3 separate regions of the Homo sapiens genome follow, and regions 1 and 2 are each linked to region 3. Evidence: fine-mapped expression QTL. A gene starts in region 3. Each other region holds a variant in brackets. All regions are shown on one strand. Distances are between the middles of the regions.

Region 1 (9,762 bases), 74 kb before region 3:
GAGAGCTGAATTTGCCTCCTTAGAACTTCTGACACTGGGGGAGGATGGACAGAGGAGGGTTGGCTAGTAGTTGGGCTCCCTGATAATCACAGTTGCTTCTTCCTGAGCACCTATGGGTGCTCCAGTGGTCGGATCCTCCTGGTGACTGGAGGACGGTGTGATCACTGCAGCTCCTCTGGAGGAAGGAGGCCCAGCAGTACGGGGATTCACCCCGATATCCAAGCCCTGCACCCCATTTTCCCTCCAGGCATCTTGGGTCTGCCTCTCCCATGAGTGCCAAGTCCAGGCCGAGGTGTGGCCCGTTCCCTAGGAGTCATCCTCCACGGGCCGGGGGAGAAGCTGTGAGGGGTTGGGGCCCCTTTGGGAGCTGCCTTTGAGGGCACCACAGGTGACAAGGACCAGGGTCCCAGAGTACAGAAGGCCACACAGTCACCTCCTGCAAAGTGTCCCACCTGCTTGGTAGGAGCCCAGTGAGGCCAACCGCCCTGCTGGGCTGGCTGTGTTCCAGGAGCCCACCGCTGAGCGTGCACACAGCGTCGACCCCCGGGACGCCTGGATGCTCTTCGTCAGGCAGAGTGACAAGGGTGTCAATGGCAAGAAGAGGAGCAGGGGCAAGGCCAAGAAGCTGAAGGTGAGGCCGGCATCCCGTCAGTGCCAGGCCGTGGGGGGTTCCGCCTCCTCGCTCCTCATCCACTCCCACTCCTACATCCTGAACATTTCCAATAGCACACCCCTCACGCCTCGGCCTGGGGACAGAGAACAGAGAGAACCCAGGCAGCCCCAGGGGGAGCCCCGAGTTAGGGGCCTGGTCCCAACCATTTCCCCACACCCCTAAAATGCCAGGCTCTCCCTCTTTTCTCCTCCCTCTGCATCCAGGCCAGGGAGGCTGGGCTAGCCCAGGCTGTGGTGAGAACCTTGTCCACACTGGAGGGGCCTGCAGGAGTGCCTGGCTCCCAGGGACTAGGGGCACAGGGTCCCTCTCACCCTCACTCAGCCTTAGGTCTTGGCCTGGGCAGAAACTTGGTGCTTGGTCCTGGTGCTGCCTCCTGCTTGGAGCCCCCAAAATGGAAAATACGGGGTGTGGGCTTCTCTGTCCCCTGGGGGCCAGTATCACCTGCCTGGGATCTGAACACACGATGGAAGGCCAGCTCGGAGTGCATGAGGCAGGTGCACAGGCCGCGCTGTCCTCGTGGCCTGGCCTTCTACCTCTGCCCAGCCTCCTGGCCCTGCCCTAAGCTTCTCCCCACAGGGGGCTCACTGGCTTCTGGTTCGGGTCCCAACCCAGCCTAGTGGGGACCTGCTGATGGTGGACTCGGGCCCAGTGCAGACCCTGAGATGCAAGTCCCCAAAAGCAGCCTAGAGTCTTCTTCCCTCCACGAGGCCTGGCCGCAGGAGCGGGCTTCAGCCCTCTGCCTCCCCACTCAGAGCAGAGTCCTTCCCTGCCAAAGCCCCGCCCCGAGGGCCCCCACCTCCAGCACAGTCCTTGTACTCACTCCAGGAGAAGCTTTCACTGAGGTAGATCCTTGGCTGGAGGTTGGAGCCCACTGGGGAGCTCTGTTGCCTGCCTCTTAGTGGCAAGAGCTTGCACAGGGGATGCTGTGGCTCCCAGCCTGCTCCTCACATGTCCTCACTGCCAAGGTTCCCTTTCAGTTCGGCTTGCCAGGGCCCCCTGGGCCTCCCGGTCCCCAGGGCCCCCCAGGCCCCATCATCCCACCCGAGGCGCTGCTGAAGGAGTTCCAGCTGCTGCTGAAAGGTAGGGGTGTGCACCGGCTGGGACACACACACCCCGCTGTGAGCAGGGCCTGGGAGGGTGTCCCGAGGAGCTGACAGGGCCAACCTCAACACTTCGGCGGGCACCCAAGGAGGCACCTGCTCTGGGCTGGACTCAAGGACAGTAGAGCTGGCCAGGTCCAGTCTCTGCCCCATCTTGGCCCATGTCTGCCAAGGGTCAGGGCTGGGGATGGCTGGGGGTTGGGAACCATGGCCAGGAGAAGGCTTCACAGAGGAAGGTGGACCTGGCCACTCAGTATGGCGGGTGCTCAGGGACCAGCGCCTATGCCCTGCCTGGAAGTCAGGAGAGCCCAGCGAAAGGCAGAGGCTAGTGTATGGGGCAGCACCAGGTGGAGCTCAGCCTGGCACCCACAGTCACCACTGGCCAGGGCTGGGGCAGCCTGCCCTGGAGGAGGCAGGGCTGAGTGGAGCCGCGGAGTCCACACTGAGGCCTCCTGCAGAGCGGCGGCTCACATTAGTCATTAGAATTGAGCCGTTTTTTCCTTTTAGTTCAATGTCCTGTTCGTTTAAATATAGCACCTTCTGCGCTGAAGAACCTCCTTGTACTTCCAGTAAAGCTGCAATCGCTTATTTTACCCCCAGCGTCTTTGGAAAATGTGGGTGGGGTAGAGGTGAGGCTGGAGGCCAAGGGCGCTGGGGCACTTCTGCCCGAGCTTCCCAAATCTTGAGGGAAACGGGAGCCGCTGCAGGGTCAGGACGCAAAGACTCCGAGGCCCTTCAGGCCGAGGGGACGTCGCCCTCGCCCCACCCCTGCGCCCGGCAGGCCCCTGGTCTCGCTAGCACCTGTCGTTCAGGGCTGGACCCACGCGGCGGGCGGGTGAGGGGTCCCTGGCGCGCGGCCACCGCTCGCTCTGTGCCAGGTGCGGTGCGGCAGCGGGAGCGCGCGGAGCCCGAACCCTGTACGTGTGGCCCCGCCGGGCCGGTCGCTGCGAGCCTCGCCCCGGTCTCGGCCACCGCCGGGGAGGACGACGACGACGTGGTGGGGGACGTGCTGGCACTGCTGGCCGCGCCCCTGGCCCCGGGGCCGCGGGCGCCGCGCGTGGAGGCCGCTTTCCTCTGCCGCCTGCGCCGGGACGCGTTGGTGGAGCGGCGCGCGCTGCACGAGCTTGGCGTCTACTACCTGGTGAGTGCCGGCGCGCGGGAGGGCGGGTGAGTCCGGCCGGGCGGGAGCCGGGGTGACCATCCGTGCCCCTCGCAGCCCGACGCCGAGGGTGCCTTCCGCCGCGGCCCGGGCCTGAACTTGACCAGCGGCCAGTACAGGGCGCCCGTGGCTGGCTTCTACGCTCTCGCCGCCACGCTGCACGTGGGTGAGGCCCGGGGCGTGGGAGGATCGCCCGCTCTGTCGCCCACCCCGCCGCCCGCCCGCTTGACCACGTCCCACCCTCCCCCGCAGCGCTCGGGGAGCCGCCGAGGAGGGGGCCGCCGCGCCCCCGGGACCACCTGCGCCTGCTCATCTGCATCCAGTCCCGGTGCCAGCGCAACGCGTGAGTGTACCCCGGCCCGGACCCCACACCCGCATTCGCTCGGCCTCCACAAGCTGGAGGTGGTTAAACAGGCACTGGACGGGGCTTCCGCCCGTTCACACCCCACCGTGGCCTAGGTGACCCCACACCTTCTTCCAGGTCTCCCGGTCTACTTCTGCCCCTATCAGGCCTTCCCTTCACAGCAACTGGGAGCTGTTAAAAATGACCTTTCCAGCTGGGCGCGGTGGCTCACGCCTGTAATCGCAGCACTTTGGGAGGCCGAGGCGGGCGGATCACGAGGTCAGGAGATCGAGACCATCCTGGCTAACATGGTGAAACCCCGTCTCTACTAAAAATACAAAAAATTACCCGGGCGTGGTGGGTGCCTGTAATCCCAGCTACTTGGGAGGCTGAGGCAGGAGAATGGCGTGAACCCGGGAGGCGGAGCTTGCAGTGAGCAGAGATAGCGCCACTGCACTCCAGCCTGGGCAACAGAGCGAGACTCCGTCTCAAAAAAACAAACAACAACAACAAAAAAAAACCTTTCCAGGCCACTCCCTGCCCAGACCTTCACCTCCTCCCCAGGTCCTAGGAGGCCGGGCTCCTCCTAGCCTCCCAACTCCTTCCCACCTCAGGGACTTTCATCTTGGGGCTCGAAGCACCAGTGTTACTTCAAGAGGCCTCTCCAGACAGCTTTCTGGAGGCCCCCTCCTCAGTCGCCCTCCCACTCCTCACCCGGGAACTTTCTTCCCCATGATCGCATCCCTTGCTCCTGCACCATCTGGCCCACGAGTGCAGTGACTGTGAGCTCCCTGTCTCCCCACACCCAGAAGGGAGCCCAGGTACAGCGGAGATACCCTGCGGGTAGGATAGCTGGAGCAGACTTGAATGAATGGATCAAGTCCAAAACTTCTTAGTCTGCCTTTGAACCCCCAGAGTGTGTTGGCCTGAACTAACTTAGCATCACCTGCCACCACATCCCCACTTCCGGCTGCATCAGCCAGTGTCCTGTTTCCCATCAGAGCCAGGGCTTTGCTGCCTCTTGCTGGGCCCTCGCCTTGCCTTTCCCAATACAGCAAGCATGCCTCTGGCCCTGTGTCCTTCCTCCTCTTGGGGACTCGGTTCAGACACCACCTCCACTGGAAGACCTGGCCAGGGTCAGGCACTTTGCTGGGCATGTGTTGGCTGCTGGCAGGATTGTGTGTCGTAGGTGAAGTTGGTGGGGTCTCATGGGGCAGGCTGACCCTCCCTCTGTTTTGGGTACAGCTCCCTGGAGGCCATCATGGGCCTGGAGAGCAGCAGTGAGCTCTTCACCATCTCTGTGAATGGCGTCCTGTACCTGCAGGTGAGTGCGGCAGGCTTGGGCATCGAGGGGCACCGCCTGGGCATGGCCACGGGTGGCTGGGTGCAGAAGGGTGCTGTTAGATGCTCAGGATCACTGGGTCGGGTGCAGCACCCTCAGACTCCAGGCCTGGGAGAGGGTCCAGGACATGCCAAGT[T/G]CTCACTTTGGTCTGGGCGCAGCCAGGCTTCAAGTCCTGATCTCCTTCCTCCAAACACAGCCCTTCCCCGAGGGCACCTGCCCGCTTGAGCAGCTGCTCCGCTCTGCATTCCCAATATTCAGACTCCCTGAGCACCTCATCCTGAGGCCCAGTACTCCTGGCCACCACAAGCCCGCTGAAGGGACTGGTGCAGGGAGGGAATGGAGGCCAGCACTCTGCCCAGGCTGACGCCCTGAGTCCCCTGTGACTATGGGAAGCCAGATACGTTATTTTCCTACCCAAAACCCTAAGTGACCATCTCTGGCACTGTGGGAATTTTGGCAAGTGGTAGAGAAATGGACATAAAGGTGGAATTTACTAACAAAGAAAACAATTGAGTGCAGGTGTGTGGAATAACAGCTGCTATTGAATTCTCCCAGAGCTTTGGAGAAGGTAGAGCTACTCCCCGAGTTAGCCCAAGTTCACACAGCAGAGCCAGAAATGGAGGCCAGGCTGTCTGGCCCAGAGTCTGTGCTTGCTGAAAGGCATTTAGAGGTCCCTTCTGGGTGCCACACAGCATGCTTGGTGAACTCAGATGGTCTCTGCCCCACCTGGATCTTAAGATGCAGATCCTGAGGCAGGTCTGGGTGGATCCCAGATTCTGCATTTCTGGGAGTTCCCAGGGAATGTGACACTGCTGGTGCATGACCACGCTGCTGGTGCATGACCACGTTTGGAGCAGCCAGGCTAGAGTGCTGGTTTCACGGAAGGCTCTGCCAAATGACTGCCTGTGGGGAAGGGCCACCCTCCCACCTGACTTGGAGCCCTTGCAGGCTCTGAGAAGCCCTGCAGCTGAGAAACCTGTTGGACTCTTGAATCCCACTCTGGCCTTGAGCAGGGGCCCACTCCCACACACGCGAACTGTAGGGCGCTGCAGGGAAAGCAGAAGAGGTGCTGGGTGGGGCCCAACCCGTGCGGGCCCTTGCTCTGTGACCTTGGCGGCCACATTCTTCTCTGGGCCTGAGCCCTTCCCAAAAGCGGGGCTGAGTGGGCAGGAGGGAGTGTGGCTGGCTGGCCCTTGGGTCACCTCTGCAGGCTGTTGGGGTGGCCCAGTGCCTCAAAGGCACCCTCCTTGCAGATGGGGCAGTGGACCTCCGTGTTCTTGGACAACGCCAGCGGCTGCTCCCTCACAGTGCGCAGTGGCTCCCACTTCAGTGCTGTCCTCCTGGGCGTGTGAGCGGCCACCACAGGCCCTTCCTCTCAGGGGCAAATGGAGCACAGATCTAGACAATGTGTGGACAGTGTCAGAGTAGCAGTGGCCACATGGAGGAGGAGGCCCACCCGGAACTCTGCCCACACTGGCCACTGCAGTTCAGCCCACAGAGCCACTGCAGGCAGGCCTACGGACGTGACACGCACGCTGGTGGTCCCGGAGCCAGGGTTGATTCAGGACACCATCTTGGGCTCTTATCCAGGAAAGAAAGAGTCGGCGTGCCTGGGGGCACCTGCTAGTCTCCAGCTGCAGGCCGACTCTTTCCTGGCCTGCTCAGCACCTGCCCAGATGGCCTCTGCGTCTTTCCTGTGCCCAGCCCCACCTTTTCCACCTCTCTTCATGTTCTCATGGAGTGCAAAGTGCACCAGCCAGGGCCCCTACCTGGGAGAGGGTCAGCTGACGCAGGGCTGAGGGGGCTGCCACAGGGACGTACGCTGTGTGTTCTTACTGCTTAGAAGGGACGGGGTCACTCACCACTCCCCTGGTCTCCATCTGGGCTCCTTGGTCTTCCCTGCCCCTCCCCTAACCGTGTTCTACCTGCCAGTGGAGCTGAGCACTGCCTAGCCTGGGCCAGAGGGGCACTGGACAAGGGCCTTTGGGGGACAGTAAGTCTGGGCCCAGCTTCTAGTTCTAATGTGTGCAAGATTAACTCACAAATTCACCTCAGAAGGCCTTTCCAAATGGGAGCTCCACTCTTCCCCTCCTCTGCAAATCTTCACAGCCAAGGCCCCTTCCACCCTCTCCAGAGGTGGATGAGATCCCTTTTCCCCTCCCCTCTGAGGTGCTGACTCACTGGTAGGAGCCACCCACCAGAGGAAAGATCTAGAACGTCTTTACAGATTGGAGACAGCCGGGCCTGCTGACCCATCATCCGAATAGCTGAAGCAGAGTCTTCCACCAGGGGTGCCAGGGCCTGGCTGGGTCCAGCGGCTCTGGGATGAGCCTCCCAAGCATCTTTCCCACTTGGGTGGCCATGCGGCGCTGACATTGGACAGGTGGTGGACGAGAGATGGTCCCGAGAAAGGGTGGTCTTGGGAGGGCTGGTCCCAAGCCTGCTGTGCTCCTGTGGCAGTGATGGGGCCTGGGGATGGGGACGGCAGCTCTCATGAGGACACACAGGCTGTGAGCCCGCAGCCTCCTCAAATGTAGCCTCCCACATTTTCCCCAAAGTACAGGACTGTCCCAGAGTAGGTAGTGAAGAGGACAAGGCCCTCGGCAGCGACCTCCAGGGCCTCCTACCTGCTGAGGAAGAGTTAACCCACTGCCTCCCCACACAACAGGCTACGAAGAACCTGGTGCCTCAGGACCTCCTGGGAGCCAAGCTGGTCTGGCAAGGGCGCTCAGGCCTGGGAGAGAAGGGAGCAATGGCCAGTCACCTTCACCTTCTAACTAACTAGCCTCCGGATGAGGTGGCTGCCACCAGGCCCGAATGATCCCCAGGAGCCCAGCTTCCAAACCCCAACATCGAATCAAACATCTCCATCCCCAAGTGCAGTAACACACAAAAACCAAACACTCTGCCCTGGGAAAGGCCTGGTGCGATTCTCAGTAGGACTCACACCCACCCTACCTAGAAGTACTGGGCTGGCCTGGGTACTGCATCCGTGTGTTTTGATAAGGGGGTGATGTGGCCACGCCCTTATCTAGATTTCACTTTGTATCCACTGGGCACAGATATTCTAGAGAACTTATCTTTCACTCTTGTAAAAGCCACATATCCACATCTCTTTCATTTTTCTCAGTGTGTTATGCAGCAATTTATTAAAGTATTTATTGTCTAATAAATACTGCCAAGTGGAATATATTTATATAACTGACTTCGTGGGGTGGTTCAAGTACTTACTTAAGAACTATGTGACACAACAGTTACAAAACAAAAGGCAGACCTTAAGATCCGGAATCAATCCTTTAGCCCAGGTTCACTAAACTAAGCACAGTAAGGAGGAACCTGGAAGGTGAAGTGGAGATGGCCTCCAGCCTCTACGTGGGAGGGACTCCCTTGAAGGCTGGGAGTGAACCTTCCTGGGAAACTAGGGTCAAGCCTCTCGGGAACAGTGGGACATAGGGATGTATGAGTCACAGACATCAGTGTGCAAACACCTGGTTTGCTATAGGAAGATAGTTACCAAATGAATGGTTCTATTTCCTGATTCTGGGGTGCCAGGGCTCTTTTCTTCAATGAGGCCACACTGTACAATGTCCCAGTCCTCAAACTGAAATGGGTACTTGGCTCTTAAAACTCCCTGGGGAAGGAAGGGGCAGCACCAACACTTCGTTCAGTTCTTACTTGTGGCTTTTACACAACAGACCCCCAGGAGGCATCTAAGGTTTACATGAAGCCTTTACCACTGAGGTCCTCGCAGCATGGATACCAATTCCACTCAATCAACTGGGTGATAAAACCATGTGTGTGTGTTGGGTGGGGGCCAGGGAACATTACAAAACAGATTCTGAAAACGCAAATTTTTAGAATCTTACATCATCCTGAGCCAAACATTTACACAAAAGGATCCAAGAGCTGCTTTACTAAAAACTACTTACAGTCATAATGATGACGTTTTCTATATAAACAAGTGCTTGAAAAGTATTTTAAAGCTTATTCTTCTGAGCTTATTATTCTTCATGCACTCTTTTCATGCTTTTAACATCTTTAACAGAAGTGTCCCCCTTTGAGGTGTTATTGCAAAGATTAACCTCATTCCAGCACAGGGCCAACTCCCCACACCTACCTCACGTGGGAAGCAGAATTTCCGGGCCATGCTGAGCAGCCGGCTGCCTGCTCCAACAGGAAGGTGCACACCTACACCCAGGGAGTCCAGATGGAAGCCACTGAACCGAGTCCTCCACAGACTCCTTCCACCAGACTGCAGCTCTCACCAATGGAATGAGAATGGCTAATTCTGTACTGTTTCTGGCAGGTCTGATGCATGAGTAACCTTGTCTATGAGTCTATTTCCTGGCTAAGCCTGAGCTCATGCTATGTAACATTTTGCAACACTATTTCCATAGGGAAAACTGAAAAGAGCTAGAGGGTTCCCAAAGCCCTGGTCTGGGCCTAGCCTTGACTAACCAGTCATCCCCTGGGTCTCTTCATTGCAACATGCCACTTCCCCAACCAGGGTCATCATGACAGTGAAAGCACAGCAAAATGCCCGTGAACTACAAAACATCACACAACCAGCAGCCTGCAGGCCACTACGAGCCAGTCCAAGATGCCTATAATGGTTTTAACAAGGAAAGACAGCATATTCAAAAGCAAACACAATCTCTGAAGGGTCAAGAGGTGCTCACAGTATAATAACTCAAAAGACTAGGAAAAAAAAAGAGAAACCTTTATTTACAACCATGGGAGTCCCACAGGAGTACACAAAACACACAATGTGCACACACACAAAATGAACCTTTTAAGTCAATACCATGCGTGCTCCTGGCCGCGCGCCACCCCTCAGTGCCCTATCCGCACCACCATCACAGTGACGTTGTCGGCCGAGCCCCGCTGCACCGCCTTGTTGGCCAGCCTGTTGCAGGCTGCTTCGTAGCGGGCGTCGGCTGCGGACTTCCCTTCCCGGGTCTGGATCTTTTCATCCTACCAGATGAGAAAGGGAATGAGTGAATGGAGTGACCCCGCACCCTGTCACTTTCCTGAGACATGACTGCCAGGAAGAAGAGCTGCTCTGGTCTCCATCAGGGCTGGCAGGACAAACTGACCAGTGAGTCAGTAGGCAGAGTTCACACTGAAAAAGGGCACAAGGGCTGT
Region 2 (9,762 bases), 54 kb before region 3:
GTGGGGCAGCCAGCCCTGGCCTCAGGCAGGAGAACAGACCACGACAGGGCTCTGCTGCTCAGGGGCAGCGACCCACGCTGCTGGTCTCTTAGCCTCAGCCCTTCTCTGAGATGAAGGAGTCACCCAAAACCCACACTGTCAAATGATTTCTCTAAGGCATGTAAACACTTCTCTGAATCAGGTAAGGACTGGGATATAGGAAGCAACTGCAACACAACTGGCCTTACTTTCAGCCATCGGACTGTCAGTATCCAATTATTTTCAAGGAGTTCAGGCAAAAGCAGAATGAATGTAAAACTTACAAGAAAGGGGAGAAGAGGTGATGCTTACGCTCATGTTAGAGTCACATTCTCAGGCATGACTGTCCACAGTAGTTACCAGGACAGTAGTTACGGTGGCAAAAACTGGGCCAACAGCACTGCTTGAGGCCTGAAACCAGGCCTATAATCCCATCACTGCTCATGTAAACTGCAGCGACCGTGAATGAAACTGCTTCTTACTAATCCAAGAGCTTTTTGAACAAACGCTAAGGGTTCCAACTACTCTCCAGAAACCTCCCTGTACCACTGACTAGATTCAGCCTGGAGCAATAAAAAAGGCTTCCCCAAATGAACAACAGAAGAGAAACTACACTTCAAAGGATAGGTAAGTGCAGTCTTATACTAAGAGATGACATCTCTCTTATCTCTGGCAGAAAATAAAATTTTAATAGTCAAACTGTACAACAAACCAGAAAATACTCCTGGTCTAATTCATAATGCAATGTCCTTGAAGTGGAATTCTAAAGAAAAGACTTATGCCCTCCTTTAGCTGCCTTGGATAGAAGCAGATAATAAAACCAGAGCAGACATATGGTTTTCAAAGATTTAAAGAGAGAGTGAAATGAAACTGCAAAAGACAGAGCCAAGTAAGACATGGTCCTCTGTGCCAGTTGTTCCCAAGAAGTCCAAAGACATTACTTAACCCGTCTTAACTACTTCAGATTTTCTCTCTGGAGAATTCACCTAAAACTGTAACTTATTCAATGTGAAAAGTGACAGGTTTTTTTTTTGGTTTTTTTTTTTTTTTGAGATGGAGTCTCGCTCTGTTGCCCAGGCTGGAGTGCAGTGGTGCGATCTTGGCTCACTGCAAGCTCCGCCTCCCAGGTTCACGCCATTCTCCTGCCTCAGCCTCCCGAGTAGCTGGGACTACAGGCGCCCGCCACCACGAAAAGTGACAGTATTTAAGAAACTTCCTAGGCACAGAGAAAACACTGTGAATGGTAAATATGAATTTGTCCTTTTGCAAATGTAGGGAGGCAAGTTTCCTTCCACGTGGACACATGTGAAATCTACAACTGTCATCCACCTATGTCACCAGTGTTAGATCTCAGACAGAGCCTCGTCACACTGAAGACTACGTAACAGGGGAAGTTCTACTCCTTGAAGGTCTCGGGACCCTTCTACAGCTAACAGCCCTCCTTCCCATGAGCTCCTCTCAGTCCCTTGGTTACCTGACGTTTCCTCCAGCCTTCTGTATCCTCATCCGCTCTTCATACTGAGTTGGATTATGCTCTTTGCTGAGGCTTAAGGCTGCATGTTTTTGACTCTCCTCATTATAACGACACAAGATTGCCTGGGAAGATGGAGATTGTAATAGTCATGAAATTCAGTGGGCGCAGCATCTAAAGGTACCAGTTGAAAAAAACAGTTAACAATGGAGTTTGAAGAAAACAGTTAACAATGGAGTTTCACATTCAGCCTCCTGCTGATAAACGTAAGTTCAGAGAATCAAGCAGCAAAGAAGTGTCAAAGACACAACAGTTAGGGAGAGAGTCGCCCCTGGTTTTGATATCAACTCTGGTACAAACTCTGCTGAATAACTACAGACAAGTGCTCACTCTGGCTGTTGTCACATTTGTGACATGAAAGGAAGCACTCAACAAGTATCAAGGTCCCTTTTGGCCTGGAGTCTAGAAGGCCAGAGACATGTCCATGAGCCTATGGAAGGCAAAGAGGAGGGCAAGCGTTGTGCATGCTGGCCGAGTGCCAGGTAGGCCGTCCACACCAGTGCCTCCAGGTGTTCTCGCCCCTGCCAGGTTCATTGTGTCTGTTTTACAGGAAGACACTGAGGCACGAAGAATAAGTAACTCAATAAAGTCACAGAGCAGAGCCAGGATTCAAATTTGGGTCTGACTCCTGTCTTTGTTTTTTTGCCAATTTTCCTCTTGCTATTTCTGAAGTCATGTGGTCTAAACACATGTGGGCTAAGGCCAGTCTACTAAAGGGCCACCAGAATGTAAACTCCACCAGGCAGGGGCTGTCATCTGTTATAGTCTCTGCCATACCCCTAGCACTTAGTATTTGATGAATCATCCCCCCAGAAGCATCGTGGGGAGGGGTCTAAAGATGCTGCTTAAGTGTGGACAGTCACTTGATTCCTGTGACTGCCTAGGGAGCAAGGAGGCCGGGTGAAAAAGCGGCAACGGAACGGAACACATGGTCCTGATGCAGAGGAGGCAGGGTCTGCATCCAGCTTTCCGCAGCAGCACCCTCTAGGCTTTACAGCATCCCCACGACTGTCACCAGGGGGAACAACACCCTGGGCTTTCTCCCTCAGCCAGGGACCGGGCTCGGGTGATGAATGGCACCTCATCTGGTATTTTCTAGCTACAGCTCTCAAGTTACTCTGAAATCACAGTAACTTTGATAGGCAGGGGTTAAAGCTTTTCATTCATTACTGTCTAAGGTCAGAGAAAGGAAATAAAAGAAGATTTAGGCTACTTGCATACTGATTACATTCTGATCCACAGCATCACACACACAAACCACGGGAGGAAAAAAGAAACAAAAAAGACGGGATCTGGGTTTTAAAGCACAAGTCTATCATAGGGCGTAAGTTCCCCAGAGAACAAACAGCCTCTAGCTGAGTTGCTGTTCCCTTACCCAGAAGTTAAACTGCAGCAGAACACTCTGCAGCAACCCCAGAAGAAAGGTTTCAACCAGACACCATCACTTTAATCTTATTCAACAAGTACGTGCTAAAGTCTTTTCCCCATAAAACGTATTGTCATCTAAGTGGGTGGCTCCAGAGCCACATACCCGACTATCTCCGAGGTTGGCAATATAAAGAATGTTGTCTACAGCCAGAACACACGTGGCAGTGGACCCATCTTTCCAGGCAGGCTTCCTGGGGGGAAACACATCAGAAACACAGTCACCACCAATAGCCCAGCACTTTGAGACTAATTTCCAGAGCTCAATGGGAAGTATCTTATATTTCAAAATGAACCATTTCCTTGATACTTGCTTTTTTTCTGTTTTAGATTTAGCTAACGGTTATAAAAGCTGAGTGCTACGCACTTTTCAGACAGTGAGCAATAGTGTTAAACCACATCAGAAGACTGAAATGCATTTAGGAAAACACCACACACAGTCCACTCAAACTTCATCATCAAGTTATACTTACTGGCTGGAAGCTTGTTTAAGGAACTCTTCATCAGTATGCTTGAAAGTGTCCAAAAGGCATCTCTTCACGGTTTTCTCTACACTGATTACATCTCCTATTACAGAAGGGCCAAAAGAAAACAATCTCTCAAGGAGGGAAGATTATCCTCCTCCCACTGTCATTTTGGTTTGTTTTTTGTTTTATTTTTTTGAGACGGAGTCTCGTTCTGTCACCAGGCTGGAATGCAGTGGCGCGATCTCAGCTCACTGCAACCTCCGCCTCCCAGGTTCAAGAGATTCTTCTGCCTTAGCCTCCTGAGTAGCTGGGAATACAGGCGCGCGCAACCATGCCAGGCTAATTTTTGTGTTTTTAGTAGAGACAGGGTTTCACCACATTGGCCAGGCTGGTCTCGAACTCCTGACCTCGTGATCCACCTGCCTCGGCCTCCCAAATGCTGGGATTACAGGCGTGGGTCACCAGGGCTGGCCATTTTGTTTTTGTAATTTCTGCACATCAATTGATTTTCAAGCATGATTAAGAACAATCCCTATTTCTTTCCTTTTTTAAATTTTTTTTTCTGAGACTGGGTCTCACTCTGTCACCCAGGCTGCAGTGCAATGGTGCAACTGTGGTTCACTGCAGCCTGAACCTCCTGGGGCTCAGAAAATCCTCCCACCACAGCCTCCTGAGCAGCTGGGACCACAGGCACATACCACCATGTCCAGTTAGGTTTGTTTTTTTTTTTTATAGAGATAGAGTCTCCCTATGTTGCCAGGCTGGTCTCAAACTCCTGGGCTTGAGTGATCTTCTGGCCTTGGCCTCCCAAAGTGCTGTGTGAGCCACCGTGCCCAGCCAGAACAATCTCTGTTTCTTTCCTCACATATAACACAGTGCTATTTGAAGTTGGTTTACTAGTTTTCCAGTAAAGGCAAGACACTAACTGAACCCAAAGACGATTGACAAAAGGTGCCTATCACTTAGAATCATGAGAAGTGCCATTCTAAGTCACACCTGCATGGCCGCTACTCCTGGAAGCCTTGGCATCCACTCCTCAGCACCACTCTTTTAAGACTCATCAATGATTCTCTGCTAAAGCCAAAATAACACATCTGACTGCTTCACACAGCCAACCAAACAGCAATAACCAATTTGAGTATCAACTGATTTAGTTCTCAGTCTCACCTTTAGGAAATTTTCTGATTAAGTTTTGATGCAAATTCTGTGCAGCAAATTTTGAGGCTCGAATTCCTCCATGTCCATCAAAAACAGCAAAATATGAAACCCGAGTACTGAAAGAACGAATTGAGAGTTAATCAAATTCTCACAGCAAAAACCACACTTTTCCATTAAAGCTTTTAAATTTCGTCTCAAAGAGTGAACATTAATAAGTCAGAGGAAGTCACACTGGTTAAGACACCAGTCACACTGTTACAAATGGGAAAAAAAAGGCTTTAACTGAGACAAATATTTAAGTAACTTTCACAGCATTTTATCTTTTTTTAAAAAAAAAATACTTGTGTGTGGGCCAGGTGTGG[T/G]GGCTCATGCCTGTAATCCCAGCGCTTTGGGAGGCCGAGGCAGGCGGATCACGAGATCAGGAGATCAAGACCATCCTGGCTAACACGGTGAAACCCCATCTCTACTAACAATACAAAAAAATTAGCCGGGCGTGGTGGCAGGCACCTACAGTCCCAGCTACTCGGGAGGCTGAGGCAGGAGAATGGCGTGAACCCAGGAGGCGGAGCTTGCAGTGAACTGAGATCGCACCACTGCACTTCAGCCGGGGTGACAGAGCGAGATTCTGTCTAAAAAAAAAAAAAACAAAAACACTGTGTGTGTGTAGGTGTGGGAGTGTTTCTGGTGAAGACTGCAAGACCTGCTAAAGGTCTAATATTCTAAAAGAGATGTAACACTTTTCCCAGTATTTTACATTAAATGTTTAAAACTCACATTTGCTTCAAAGATCAAGATCTGTTAATTCTGATTTTTCACTGACAACAAAACTAAAATTCAGAACTCCGTTCCTATTTAAATCGGATTTGGTTTTAAACATTAACAAACAGATCAAGTTATTTATCGAAAACAGTAAAAAATACAGTCATGCATCACTTAACAGAAATGCATTGTTAGGTGACTTTGTTGTGTGAACATCATAGAACATATTTACAGAAACTAACACGGCGCAGCTTACTACACACCTAAGCTACATACATGGTAGAGCCTATTGCTCCTAGGCTAAACTGCACAGCATGTTACTGCACTAAATACCATAGGCAGTTGTAACACACTGGTAGTATTTGTGTATTTAAACATACCTAAACATAGAAAAGGTACAGTAAACATGGTATTATGGCTGAACACGACAGCTCACGCCTGTTAATCCCAACACTTCGGGAGGTGGCCAAGGCAGGAGGATCACTTGAGGCCAGGAGTTCAAGACCAGCCTGGGCAACATAGCGAGACCCCCATCTCTACAAAATTTGTAATCTTATGGGAGCACCGTCATATATGCAGTCCATCACTGACTTGATGTTGTTATTCAGCACATGACTGCATAAGAGCAGGGAGGATATTACAGAATTGTTACTCAAATAAATTTTAAATATCTCATTTTTAAAACCTATCTTACTACTCTTATTCCCATTCCCCTTTCAAATTTTGCCAGAAAACCCACATATATGGAATAAAAGACATCAAATAAACTATTTCAAGGAAAAAAAAAAAACAAAAATGCCCACGAGAAATGACATTTATTCTAGAGAGCTGCTTTTCTTTCAAGTTTTTTGGAATTCCTTTTCAATTTAGGACATCCTGAGCCATGAGAAAAAAAACCTCATCTGGTTTATAACTCAGAGCTGTTCTTACTGCCTGTTATTTGCAAGGCATGATGTAGTGTTCCCAATTAAATTTACACTCAATGGATCTGCCTTCTTGGGCTCCAGAGGTCCCTTTCCTGGTTTTAATGCAAATCCCAGGCTGGGTATGGTGGCTCATGCGAGTAATCCTGGCACTTTGGGAGACCAAGGTGGGAAGATGGCTTGAGCCCAGGACTCTGAGACAAGCCTGAGCAACTTAAGGAGACACTGTCTCTACAAAAAATTCAAAAAATTAGCCGGCTGTGGTGGCACATGCCTATGGTCCCAGCTACTCAGGACGCTGAGGTGGGAGGACTGCTTGAGCCTAGGAGGTCAAGCCTGCAATGAACTATGATTGTGCCACTGTACTCCAGCCTGAGCAAGACAGCAAGACCCTGTCTCAATGGGTGTGTATCTCGTCCCCTCTACATATGATCAGCTGCTCTGCAGCAGCCATCACCTCATCTCCATGAGCAGACCTCATCTACTGGACAAACGCCATCAGCCCAAACGGCTCCAGCACACTGTATGTTAATGACCAACTGGTGTCAGTAAAGGTACGTAATGTATTTATTATGTAATTCTGAATTATGTAACCTATGTAATATGTACTATAATGTATGTTTACAGCCAACTTAATGTCCTACCTTCTGGTTTTTTTCCAGGCCCAAGAGCTTATCCAGAAGGCTTCATTTTAGTTTGTATAGTTGCAGCTAATTTTTCATTGTCTGTCTTTTCCTTGACATCATTTTGACTTTTGTTCTTCCTGGGCCCTGATTATCTGTACTAGCTCTGCTTGATCACCATTCATACTTTAATTAGTGGCTTCCAACTCTTATCTTCTAGGTCATGGATTAAAAATATTCTCTGCCAGAAGCCGCTCAGTTGCTGGTAAGGAGTAACACACGCTGCAGAGCCATGCTATGAAGCGTCATCTCCCGCTCAGCAGGGCTGCTCAACCGCGACACTACTGACATTCCAGGCTGAACAATTCTTTGTTGTGGGGCTGCCCTGTGCTTCTAAGATGTTTACCAGCATCCCTAGTCTCTACCCACCAGATGCCAGTAACAACTCCCTCCCGCAGTTGTGACAAAAATGTACCCAAACACTGACAAATGTCCCCTGGGCGGGGAGCAAAATCAACCCCAGCTGAGAATCACTGATGTACAATCAAGTGATGTGTTAGATTTTCTAGTAAATACAAACTAGCCAGTCCAAAATGCCAGTCAGAACCCAGGAGATGTTAATGCCAGCCGGGCTTCCTACCACATGAGACTCACATGAGGGACGATGGGGGCCTACACTCCTCGGTGATGTCGTTCAGGATGACGTGGGCATCCTGCATCTCCTCCCTCTCACCCTTCCGCTCAGCCACATAGCCCTTCAGACCAAAGATCACCGAAGAGGCTAAGGAAAAGAGAACAAAAGAGCCAATACAAAACTGTGCCCAACCCTCTGGAAACCCTAGTCCCAGAGCAAATGAGAGGGAACTATGACTGTCTGACTCAGCAATATCCTAATGGCGCAAACAAATAAGCAATACCCCTTAAGGCATCTCCCCCAGCTGCAAGTCTATAACTCAAATCGGAGCACTGTTGGACAGGGTGAGCTCTAAGAGGTTGCACAGGGACACAAAAGAGGAGTCAGTGAGCACAAAACAACTCTGTCTAGGGTGTAAGTCAAAGCATCAGGGCAAGGGATGTGCTGCCATCCCAGAGAAGTGAGATTCAAATCAGGCAAAAGGATCATGTGCAAATTAGTCTTGTGATAATTGAATAAGGACAAATGCAAGTCAGGAGAGTTTATCTCAAAAGCCCTTAAGATGCCCTGAAAATATGTATTTCCATGCTCAAGGCTGGTGAAGAATTTGAACAAACAGTAAGATCAGCTGCTTTTACTTCAACTGAGGAAGAAAAGGATAAAAGATTCCAATGCAGGCAGAGATCTATTTACATTTAATGGTTAGACTCATTTAAGCTTATTTTCTGATACCTAATGCCAGACAAATAATAAAATGAACACTGTGAAGAGCTGTCTTCTGGGAAGTGACAAGCTAAGTTGAAGATGACATCTTCCCAGCAAAGCTACAAGTGGGTTTTTTCACATACCTCTGCCTGCATCATACAGCTTTCACTGAGGTAATCTGTGACAAAGGACAATGCAGTCAATGAAAATCCCACAGCTCGGGCCAGGCACGGTTGCTCACGCCTGTAATCCCAGCACTCTGGGAAGCCGAGGCGGGCAGATCACAAAGTCAGGAGATCGAGAGCATCCTGGCTAACATGGTGAAACCCCGTCTCTACTAAAAATACAAAAAACTAGCCAGGCGTGGTGGCAGGCGTCTGTAGTCCCAGCTACTCGGGAGGCTGAGGTAGAATGGTATGAACCCGGGAGGCGGAGCTTGCAGTGAGCCGAGATGGTGCCACTCCAGCCTGGGCGACAGAGCGAGACTCTGTCTCAAAAAAAAGAGAAAAAAAGAAAATCCCACAGCTCAAGAATACTTTAGTACCACAACTGAAGTATTCTCTTTAGTTAATACTTTTCGTTTTCTTCCTCACTAACTTTGACAAGTTACACAACTGACTACAAATTTCAACGGCTTTTTCCAGGCTTAGGGAAGCTGCCTACTAAGCTAAATCACGTAATTCAAAGCACTAATTGACAAACTGCAAACAAAGATTGGAAGTCAGAGAGAGACTAGGTGGTCAAAAAACTAACCATTCACTGCAGAAGGCTAAGAAAAAAACCACCTGTATTTTTTAACTCTTGAGGAACAAATGTAGGTTTCCTATCTGATCAAAGGTAGGATCAGAGATAGATGTACATGAAAAGTAGGAGAAAGCACAGAGAAACTTGGAAATTCATTTGCAAAAAGGGAACCCTACTTATTTCTTAAATACAGACATAAAAAGAAAGTATTATTAGAAAGCTGAAACTGGTTTTGCTCTGGGTTGTTTTAAAATATGAAGTCTAATACATTTGTTTTCAAATTGTCTGAAAACCTTTACAAACTTTCTTTTCCACAAGCTCTTCACTGCCATTCTTCTCTTCCTCGGAGGTTTTTCTCTTTGCTCCTTTCCCTTCAGTCTTTACCATCTGGGATATTGATGTGGCAAGAGAACCTGGAAATAAAGTAAAAGCCAGACAGAAACACAGCTGTAGACTGTTGGAAAAAGTCACTAGTAGACTGGGCTTCATCCTAGCACTCAAAGACAAGGTCATTTGAAGCAAGGACTGGCAGACACAGGCAGACCCAGGAGTTGTGTCTTCATGGTTGGCGGGGAGGGGGAGGGGGGTCCCACAGTGAGAGAACATAAAGTTAAGATCCAGGCCCTGAGTCAAACTGACCCTGCTGAAGGGGTTTGTAAAAGACTTTTCCCAGTGGTAAAAATACATGGTTTTTTTTGGCCTGTAGCATATACATGTTTTTATATCCACAGGCTCTTAGTGTTAAACAAACACTTACAAAATCTGTAAGCAAACT
Region 3 (9,762 bases):
AACACGGTGAAACCCCGTCTCTACTAAAAATAGAAAAAATTAGCCGAGCGTGGTGGCTGGCGCCTGTAGTCCCAGCTACTTGGGAGGCTGAGGCAGGAGAATTGCTTGAACCCAGGAGGCGGAGGTTGCAGTGAGCCTAGATCTCCCCCACTGCACTCCAGCCTGGGCGACAGAGTGAGACTCCGTCTCAAAATAATAATAATAATAATAAATTAATAAATAAAAATAAAAAAGAAGAAGAAGTAGTGCTCATGGGCTTGACTGATAGGACGTGGGATGGCAGGAAGAGGGTGAACTTGAGGGTGACATCTAGATTTTTTTGCTCAATCCATGGGGTACCAAGAAGTGGTAATGCCTGAGGATCTGTTGTTTTGGTGGTGGTGTGAGCCCATCTGACATCTAAGTGCAGTCACTGAGTGGACAGGAGGATACAGAGGAGCCAGCCGCCTGGAGAGGGGCTTTGAATCAAGGGCATGGGATTGGCAAAACGGGCCAGATGGTGTCACTGGGTGTGGGGGCGGCAGGGAAGGCTGAGGACAGAGCCTTGGGAAGAACACGTCCAGTTGGAGGGCGGCAGGGAAGGCTGAGGACAGAGCCTTGGGAAGAACACGTCCAGTTGGAGGTCGGCAGGGAGGAGCATTGAGTACAGGGGACTGAGGATGGCCGATGAGGTAGAAAGAAGGCTGGTGTGGTGCCCTTGAGACTGGAGAAGGAGCCTCCAGATGGATGAGTCATAACCCACGAGAAGTGAAGCTGACATGCGGACATGCCCACTGGGTTGGGAAACATGCTCGTTACTAGAGATTTTGACTGTGCAGTTCCAGTGGAAGGGTGGACAATAGCTTGATTGGAAAGGAATGAAGAGGAATGGGATGCGTGGAAGTGGAGGCAGTAAGTGTAGATGACGCTTTCAAGGAATTTTGCTTTAGAGCATTGAGACAGAGGCTAACAGTATGTCACATCCAGGGAGGTTCTTCCGAGTAAAGGTATTCATATTACAGCCCGTTTGTAGGTTAATGAGAATGATCCAGAAGGGAGGAGAAGCTAATGGTGCAGTGGAGAGCAGAGTCCCTGAGCAGGTGAGCAGGGATGGGGGCCCATGCCCATGTCGGAAGCGGGCGCCACACTGCTTCATGATGGAAGGCAGAACGCCTGGGCCAGGGTGCAGGCAGGTGTCACAGAGAATGTCCTTCATGACCACATCCTAGTTCCCAGAACCTGCGAATATGCTACTTTACATGGCAAAAGGGAGTTTGCAAATGTGATTAAGAATTAAGCTAAAGACCTTCATACAGGGAGATTATCCTGGATTCTCCAGGGGGCTGGTGTCATCACAAGGATCTTTAAAAGTAGAAGTAAGGAGGAGACGTGACCAAGGAAGAAGGGTCAGAGAGACGCAATGCTTCCGAGGAACTCTGAGGATGGAGGAAGGGACCATCCTCCAAGGAATGTGGGTGGCCCCTGAATGAAGAGGCAGGAGAAGGCACACAGCCCTGCCTGCCAACACCTTGATCTTAGCCCAGTGAATCCTGACAGACTTCTAACCCGTGGAACTGCAAGACAATAATCGTGTGTTTGAAGCCACCAAGAGTGTGGTCGTTGGTTTTGGCAGCCATAGAAAAGTAATACAGTGGGTCAGGGATCCGGGTGGGAAGGAGACAGCCCTCAGAGAAGGGATCCGGGTGGGAAGGAGACAGCCCTTAGAGAAGGGATCCGGGTGGGAAGGAGACAGCCCTCAGAGAAGGGCTTGTGGGGAGCCTGGGGGTGCTGGGAGAGGAGCTGGTGTGAAACAACCAGCTGGCTGGGAAGCTGGTGGCCCCAGGCTGCACCGCAGGCAAGAGCAGCTCTCAGCCCCAGGAGGCCAACAGTGGTCACTGGTGTGGGAGCCAGTTACATTTCCAAAAGAAGCTGCACTTGAGGATTACTGTGAAGCTGACTTTAGGGCTGGAGGGGCACAGGGCCAGAGTTCTGGGTTAGTGGCTTCTGACTCTGGTCCTAGCAACGCTTTTACTCCAGGTCAGCCTCCTGCACCTTGCCTCCTGGGCTTCCCCTTGACCCCCTCCTAGGGCATCTGGGAAGGTGTGATGAGTGGACTTGAGAGGTGAAAGTTGTTCCTTTGAAGCAGTCCATGGCTGATGCTCCCTGAATGGCATGAGAGCTCATTGGCATGGCCTCTGGGTGCTACTGGAAACCAGGGCTTTCAGGATGGCCCGTTATCCATCCGTGTCCTGGTGGGTACATCCTACATCAGCCTGTCTGAGGACATTAAAATAATCCCAGGAATGATATTTCCATTGCTCAAGACTTCTTCTGTGGCACTGGCTCCCCCACTGCCCCAATAGCTCGGCTCCAGATGATAAAGCTGCATCTGGTTATAGCCCAATGGCTTCTATGATTGAATTGAGGTGAGCCAGAGTGAACCTCAAACTTTGAAACACCCCTGGTGGCCAGGACCTGCTTGGGGGCTTTTGTAAAGGGGCTGCTGGGAAAGGTGTTCTTAAGGCAAAAGCACATGTCCAGAGAGGAGACCCCGACGTCAATCCTAAGTTGTCACACCTTGGCCCTAGCCTGGGGACTGCCAACCCACAGTGAGAAGCTGCTGCTTTGGGGTCCTGGAGCAGGAGGAGGGGGCTAGGCTAACTGTGGCGGTGACTTCAGCCGGCTGACCACGTGCTATCTGCAGGTCTGGCCGAGCCCAAGAGGGCAGGCTCCCGCACCCCAGCTGCCCATCCTGCCACCCTCCATCCCTGAGGGTTCTGACCTCCTGGACCCAGTTTGACCTAACGCTCAAGCCCCCTGGGGCCTTGGCGCTTTCATTTCAGGCCACAAACTGGGTGGGTCTCCTTGACCCTGAAGTCAATGGCAGCAGTGGGGAAGTTCCTTCTTCAGTCAAGATAAGCAACAACCTCACACAAGTAGACTCATGTCTATGTCATGCTCGTGGGTCCTAAAACAGGTCTTTAAAAGATACTTTCAAACCAAATAGGTAGCAATTAGGCATTATTTTATTATTCCTGAAGCTCATGAACAAGAAAATGGCACAGAGACAGGTCATCTCCCTATTGCTGAGTTACCCTGGAGACAAGCCTCATGCAAACAAACTCCTTCTCCAGGACACACAATGCCCAAGAACAGGCTGGGTCTGAGGACCTGCCTAGCATGGGGGGCAGAAGCACTGCCTGCTGCAGAGACAGCCACGGAGTGCATCCCCACCACCATCACACTGCTCACTCTGCTGAGAAAGGGTGAGGTTTTAAAGGACATTCACCAGCCTCAGATGCAGGGGAAATGTGCTTAGTTTAGCATTTACATATCTTGACACAGTAATGACACATCACTCAACAATACTTCAAGGGTAACTAACTCCAAAATTCTTTATTTAGTAAAATTGTCACATTTGATGTCAATGGAATACACAAACTCAAGTGTGCTACAAACAAGATGTACAGAGCATCACAGCTCTGGGCAGTGCAGCTCAGTGCACCTGCCTCTCATCTCCCCGCTGAAGTGGCAAGTTCAAGCTTTTGTTTAGCCCAGGGCTGCCTGGAACACTAGTGCCCAGCACCATTTCTGCCACCTCTGCCCCCAGAGCCCGCACAGGGCTGGTGAAGCCTGGGTGGGTGAACCTGGGAGAGCGCTGGCAGCTCTACAAAATTCTTCCTCCTGCCCGTAGCTCCCTCCCTCCACCCACTCCAGAGCTGCAGGGTCCCTAAAAGTTTCTTAAGAAACGGGGCTGGGGCCTGACTGGGCTGGTTACCAGGGGCTGCCCTGCAAGCCATCCATCAGAGGAGGGAGGGAAGACCTGGGAGACTTCCAGGGCCCTACCCCACCACATCTGAACCCCTGGGAGGAGGGAGGAGATCCAGGGAGGGCCGGGCCCACCCCCGCAGGACTCTGGCTGGCATTGGTCACCAAGGCCTCCAGACACTCCGGGCAATTTGGGCTGTGGTCAGGCTGCCCAGGGCTGCGGGCACCAAGTCGGGCCCCTCAGCAGGAGCCTGACTCAGTTCAGCCTCAGGGGCCTCCTCCAGGTCGGAGCACAGGTCGTCCCCAGGACCCGGGGGGCTGGGTATTGGGGATCCCGGAGCGCCCCCCGCAGGCCAGCCACTCCGTCCAGGGGCTCTAGGTGGCCCCGCCAGGGCGTCCCCCAGCAGATCCTGGAAGCTGCTGCCCTCACGCAGCGGCATGGACTCGAGCAGATGGTTCAGGAGCTCGGCAGCGACGGTAGCGTCGATGGCCTGGCACGTGGACACGAACGTGTGCACCTCGTGCATGCACTGGATGTAGCCGGCAGCGAAGCGCTCGCTCGCTTCCGCCTGCAGCTGCTCGCGCTCTGGGCCCGAGGGTGGGAGGGAGAGAGCCGCGTCCCGCGCGGTGAGCGGCGACTGCGTGGCCCAGCCCACCCGGCCCGCGGGGACGCGGCTCACCCAGGAGACGCGGGGGCGCACCCTGCTCCGGTGGGAGCCCTCGCCGCCGACAGGACAGGGGCGCCGGGAGGGAAGTCCTCCGTCTGGCAGGGGTTACAGGCGCCCGCGGCCGGCGCCCCCGCCCGCCCCGCCGCCACTCACCGCGCGCCCGGCCCCGCAGCACACCCTGGACCCGCCGCACCGTCAGCTCCAGCACTTCGGCGTTCTCCAGCTTGGCCTGCACCTGCGCGGGCGGGAAGGGCGGTGAGCCGGCAGCGCGCTCCCGGACCCGCCCGCCCGCCCCGCAGCCCCACGGCGCCTGCCCGGCCGCCGCACCTCGGCGCCCGCCAGCAGCAGCCGCAGCTCCTGCAGGCTCTCGTTGATCCGCGCGCGCCGCTTCTTCTCCACCAGGGGCTTCCGGGCCTGCGGGGAGCGGGGCACTGAATCCCAGCCCCGCACGGCCTCCCGCCCGCTTGCTCGCCCATGGCCCCGGCCCGCACCTTGCGGTCCCCTCGCGTCTCCCAGCCGTCCTCATCCTCACGGCCCACACGGTCCCGGCCAGGCGCCGCGGGTGGCGCCATGCCCGCTCCGCCGGGGACGCGGCAGGGGCTAGGAGCAGCGGGGACGGGGAGCGGCGGGGACCGGAGTGCCGGCGCCCTCCGCTGCCCCGCGGCCGCCCAGCAGCAGCCCAGCCGTCCGCGCTCCTCGCGGCTTCCGGCCCGCCGCGGTCCCGCCCCTTTTATAGCCGCTTATTTGCATCTCAATGCGCCGATTGGCCGCGCGGGCCCGGGGCGGCCGACCGCGAGGCGCGCTGCAGCCAATCGGGGCAGCGCGCTTTGTCCGGCCCAGCGGCTCTGGCGGTCGGGCAGCTGGCTGAGCTAGGCGGGGCCCCCAGCCCGGCCTTCCCTAGACCCCCGCGGGGGCGGCACCGGGGCGGCGACCCCGGGTAGCTGCGGCCCTGCCCGCGCTTGTTTCTCTCCGTCTGCTGCTCTAGGACCACTGATCTGCCGCGCGTGCGAGCAGGCGTCCACCCGTCCGTCCGTCCGTCCGTCCACTCATTCATTCACCCATTAATTCATTCATTTCCCTCCTTCGCCGATGGCGCCTCCAGAGTTGAGCGCTGGGGCCACTGGCCCCAGGAGATGCGTCCCTGGTGTGCAGAGCCACAGTCAAGTCCGCGGTCTCTGGACCTAGAGGGGTTTCAGGTCCCGGCTGGGGTGGCTGCCAAGCCCCGGGGAGGCAGGGTCCATTGGGCAGCGGTGGCGGGGCGGCCCCTGAGTTTCTTCCGGACTCGTCCAGACGCCGGGCCGGACCCCCGACGCCGCCCTCCGCCAGCACTGGAGTCCTAGTGGGGCGGGGTCCCGGGTGCTCCCGCCCGCGCCGCTCTCCCCCTGGGCTCTGCGGGTCACCAGCCCCGCCCCCCTCTGAGCTCCCCCATCTCCCTCTAGTCCCCTTTGGCCCCCGGGGCCCCCTCCCTCCCTTCCACTGCCCCCCGCCCGCCTCCCTCCTCCCCTCCTCGTCCTCCGCGCCCCGCCTCCCAGGCCCGCCGAAGCTGCCGTCTGGTCCTGTAACTTGATGCCCGTGACAGTTGGCAGCTGCGGCCGCTTCGGCGGAGAAAAGCGAGAAAAGCGGCGGCCGCGCCAAGAGCGACAGGTGTTGGCCGCGCCTTTGTCTCGCACCCTTTGTCCGGCGGGCAGGCGGCGGGCGCTTGTCCCGGCCAGACGCCCGCGACTCCCCCATCGCGGCGGGCCGCCCATCTGCTGGGTTCCTCTTGGCCGCGGGCGGGGTGCGTGGGCGGTGGGGCCGCGCCCTCGGGCAGCGTCCTGGGGACCCCTGCCCGGCTCCTGCCCCGGCGTCAGTCCAGACGCTGTGTGGAGGAGCCGGAACGGGAGACGCCTTCTCGGACCCCAGCCGGCCGACTACCAGCCTGCCCCGCACAGCACCTGCCTTCCTCAGTCCCCACTACTCACCCGGGCTGGGATCGTCAGGGTCTGTTCTGAGCCCCTCCAGGCTATAAGCGTCCCTGGACAAGGGCACAGTCTGACCTAGGACCCCCTGTCCACCTCCCCGCACCCCCAGCAGAGCCTGGCCTCACAGAAGCGCTGGTAGGTAGGGAAGGTGAGGGGTGGCCCTGGCAGGATGGGCTGGAAGGCCGCGTGGGAGGGGAACATCACGGGACCGCAGCAGCTGAGCGGAGCGGCAGGACTAGGCTGCAGACCGACCGCCCCACTGCCCCTAGAGAGGTCTGACAGGCCTCCCATGGCCCCTTTACTTGCGCCTCTCCACCAGAGGGACCCCTGCAGGCTTCCTGCTGGGTGAGTTTGGTGAGAGGTTTGAAAGCTCCCAAAGTCACCTCACTGACCTCTGTAATTACCTGGGACCCCCTCCCGCTGGCTCCCAACTGTCCCTGCTCTGGCTCTTGGTTGCTCTATGAGCAGGGTCCTGAGACTTCCCCCAGCCCAGCATCACTCACCTGGGTGTGAAACTACCGCTTTACTTCACACACTCCCCACCTGCCCAGTAGTGGGGCTGGCAGGGTGGGGCTGGAGTGGTGGATCCCAAGGAAGTGGATTATTAGCCTGTGACTTTACTCTCCTTCACCACTTAGACATCACCCCAGGGAAGGAGAACCTCCACTCCCCCAAGTGGCTACAATGACATTTCCACTACTTCGAGAAACTGTGATAGGGAAAAATAAACTCACTGATATTTCCTGTACTCCCAAGTTTGCAAACTGATTTACACTCCTCTCATTATCCAAACGAACAAGGCCAAGTAGATGTTTTAGGATGCTCTCATCCTAAAACATCTGCTTTATGTTAGGCAATTTATATTGCAACAGGATGATCAGGGCCCCAAAAGAGGACTTTGGGTAAAGCCTGACTGAACACTTGATTGGATGGGGAACTGGATTTGAGGGGCAAGGAGGACATGATAAAGGCAAATGGTGCAAGCAAAAAAAAAGAAAGAAAAGCAACTAGGAACTCTAGGAAAAACAAAAAGCTTCCCAAGAAATGTAATCTTAGCACATTACTTGGCTCAGGAGACAATTTTCACAGTCACAACAATGTAACAGTGTTCATAGGGTTTTAACATTTAGAATTAATCTATACAGAAGGCAAGGAAGGATTGTTTATGGTTATGGGACATGATATAAAGTTGACCTTGTAAAAACAAAAGGACAGGTGATAGGAGTTATGAGAGAGGAGGCTAAAGGGAGGACTAGGGACCTCAAAAGCCTTGTCTGACAGTGGAGTGGGTGGAGGGTTGAGGAATGCTGTCTAGAGTTGAGGGAGGGAGAAATTAAGCACTGGGATATGCCTCGGTGTGACCAAGGATCCTACAGGGAAAAGAGCTTAAGTAGAGAAGGCTGTACATCAGCAAAATCCTTCTTGGTTGGACTGGAAGTTGCCCAAGGTCCCCTCTGCAAGGTCAGCTTCAATTCCCTTTAGCGGTGCACTGGCCAGCTGGCATGGCCTTTTTGTCCCAGAAGCCTGGCCTATCTTGAGGTCACCAAGCCCTCCCTCCCTCCTTCACAGCAGCCTCCCCTAGCCAACACTTCCTGCCATTTGTCCCTTGGGCCAGTCCTGCCTTCAAAGTTTGCCTGAGTATGGACTTCCTGAGCATTTGAGTCCTTTGATCCCCCTAGAGCCAGGAACAGAGGCCAGCAGAGGCTGGGCAGGGTGGTGGTTGCTGCGGGGATACCAGTTAGCAGTGGGGGTGGCAGGCCATAAATCCCTGGGGGAACAAAGGCAGCTGCGGCCTGTAGACTGTCCAGGCCCCTTGTGGGCAATCTGCCCAGGAGACTCAGAGAATCTCCGTTTGGTTTGGAAATAAATCCCTTGGGGTTATATGGTAAATAAAAATACAATTAAGAGTCTTCCAAAAGCACTCAGGTTCAGTGAAACAACCATATCTGGCCATTTAGAGCAGTTTGCAGAGGCCTCTGTGCTCGCTAGGGAGGACTTTGCCTTTTATCCCATCAGCACTTGGCGTTAGGCAGCCAGGCTAGCAGGCAGAGGAGAGCCCCTCCCTTCTGCTCAGGGAGCTTCTCAGAGGCTGGGCATTGGGTTCAGGATCCATTCAGCTCTCTGCTCCCACCCCCAGGGTCATGGTTTGAAGAGTGGGAGGGATGGGGAGCAACTCTTCGGGCTTCCACAGTTTTGGCCTCACAAGGCTTCATTCATCACTGTGAAAGAAGGGCTGGGGTCAGGGGACTATGCCGCCCTGCCCATATCATTCGCAATGGAGACATGTGACCTTCCTGGTGGAGCCTCCTGACCGCCCCACCTTTAGCCCTACCTAGCCCGATGACCAGAAGACAGGCAGCCAGCCTGGAAAGGCCAGGTAACCCAGGGCAGGGATGCAGGGAAGACAGAGGTGCGTGGAGGCAGAGCTGGGGGCACTCTGGGGCTGAGCCAGACAGCTGCACCCCTCCAACTAAAAGTGAAAAGACTGTGGGGCATGACACGATTAGGTTTGCATTACGTGAGTTCACTCCTGCAGCCTGAAGGAGGGTGTGTGTGTGACACGCACAGGAAGAAAGGGAGCCAGCAAGAAGCAAACGCTATAAGGGAGCTGACCGCCAGGAGGCCTTTGGGATGTAAGATTCTTTAATGCAGAATTCCTGGAGTTCTTTAAAAAAATTTTTTTTAAATAATCTTTGCTCTCTATTCAGGTTTTCCTTTGTGCTATGTGAAAAATACATACAAGTAAAAATAAAAATATACTTGCTTTATTTACCAATTTTCTAAAAGGCAAACAGGTCATAAAAAGACACAAGCAGTCAAACAAATCTATTGCACTGGGTAAAGAAAGTTTGGTTTGCACACAAACAAACCACTTGTCCAGCAAGGCTCAACAAATCATCACAGAAACTCTGAGAGCTTATTTACATATCTCTTCGGGAATATATTAAAAAGAAGGCTCAGTTTAAAATAGAGAAAAACTGTTTAACACCTGTGTAAGCACACACACTAAAGAAAACATGACTTGATGCTTGGCATCACGTAAACAAATTCACAAGATGATCCTATTAAGTCAACTGCTTGGCACGCGCTGAAGCTACAGTTAACAATCAGTGAGCACATATTAAATGATAAAATAATGCTGATGGTAAACATTCATAACAGCAGAGTAAGATTTTGGCAGTTTTGTGTTTCGGTAACATAACTGTAACCTTAGATGAACACCTATCCCTTCATGATCTGACTTTAGAGGCAAGGAGTTTGTAACATCTAATGGCCATAAGAATGCAGACTGCTACCTTATCATAGGCATAGGCAGCTGATGTTACTTTGTAAATTAACGAAAAATTAAAGTGTTCTTGTGTTTATGAAGAATAGGTTTAATAGTC

Which allele goes with the higher level. Positions count from the first base shown, and alleles are read on the strand shown. Sizes are in standard deviations (SD) of each study's normalised expression. Not every link is listed here.
As copies of G replace T in region 1, the expression in thyroid of the gene that starts at base 5,120 in region 3 goes up (moderate effect, 0.43 SD a copy in GTEx).

The links. PIP is the estimated chance that this variant, and not a neighbour inherited with it, causes the effect.
Region 1: its variant is the best candidate, but not a certain one, in a credible set for the expression of HES6 in thyroid (GTEx, PIP 0.53).
Region 2: its variant is the best candidate, but not a certain one, in a credible set for the expression of HES6 in whole blood (INTERVAL, PIP 0.57).

What each region holds. Positions count from the first base shown.
Region 1 is chr2:238,161,086-238,170,847 of GRCh38, forward strand. It overlaps ERFE (erythroferrone), which reads left to right. Exons shown (of 8, transcript NM_001291832.2): 2 at 509-631; 3 at 1,651-1,753; 4 at 2,652-2,914; 5 at 2,990-3,098; 6 at 3,185-3,275; 7 at 4,521-4,599; 8 at 5,871-7,805. The coding sequence ends at 5,969. ILKAP (ILK associated serine/threonine phosphatase) reads right to left here. Exons shown (of 12, transcript NM_030768.3): 12 at 9,317-9,591. The coding sequence ends at 9,451. Among named protein-coding and RNA genes, the nearest start is that of ERFE, 7.0 kb to the left of the region's middle. RefSeq lists an enhancer at 2,073-2,573. The variant T/G (reference allele first, on the strand shown) is at 4,754.
Region 2 is chr2:238,180,573-238,190,334 of GRCh38, forward strand. It overlaps ILKAP (ILK associated serine/threonine phosphatase), which reads right to left. Exons shown (of 12, transcript NM_030768.3): 4 at 9,281-9,400; 5 at 7,559-7,685; 6 at 4,609-4,715; 7 at 3,448-3,541; 8 at 3,081-3,168; 9 at 1,493-1,614. Among named protein-coding and RNA genes, the nearest start is that of ILKAP, 18 kb to the right of the region's middle. The variant T/G (reference allele first, on the strand shown) is at 4,962.
Region 3 is chr2:238,234,919-238,244,680 of GRCh38, forward strand. HES6 (hes family bHLH transcription factor 6) reads right to left here and starts at 5,120. Exons shown (of 4, transcript NM_018645.6): 1 at 4,907-5,120; 2 at 4,743-4,829; 3 at 4,569-4,650; 4 at 3,349-4,333. The coding sequence starts at 4,987. The coding sequence ends at 3,909. It overlaps PER2 (period circadian regulator 2), which reads right to left. Exons shown (of 23, transcript NM_022817.3): 23 at 9,126-9,762. RefSeq lists enhancers at 3,551-4,119, 6,020-6,525, 6,526-7,031 and a silencer at 4,843-5,362.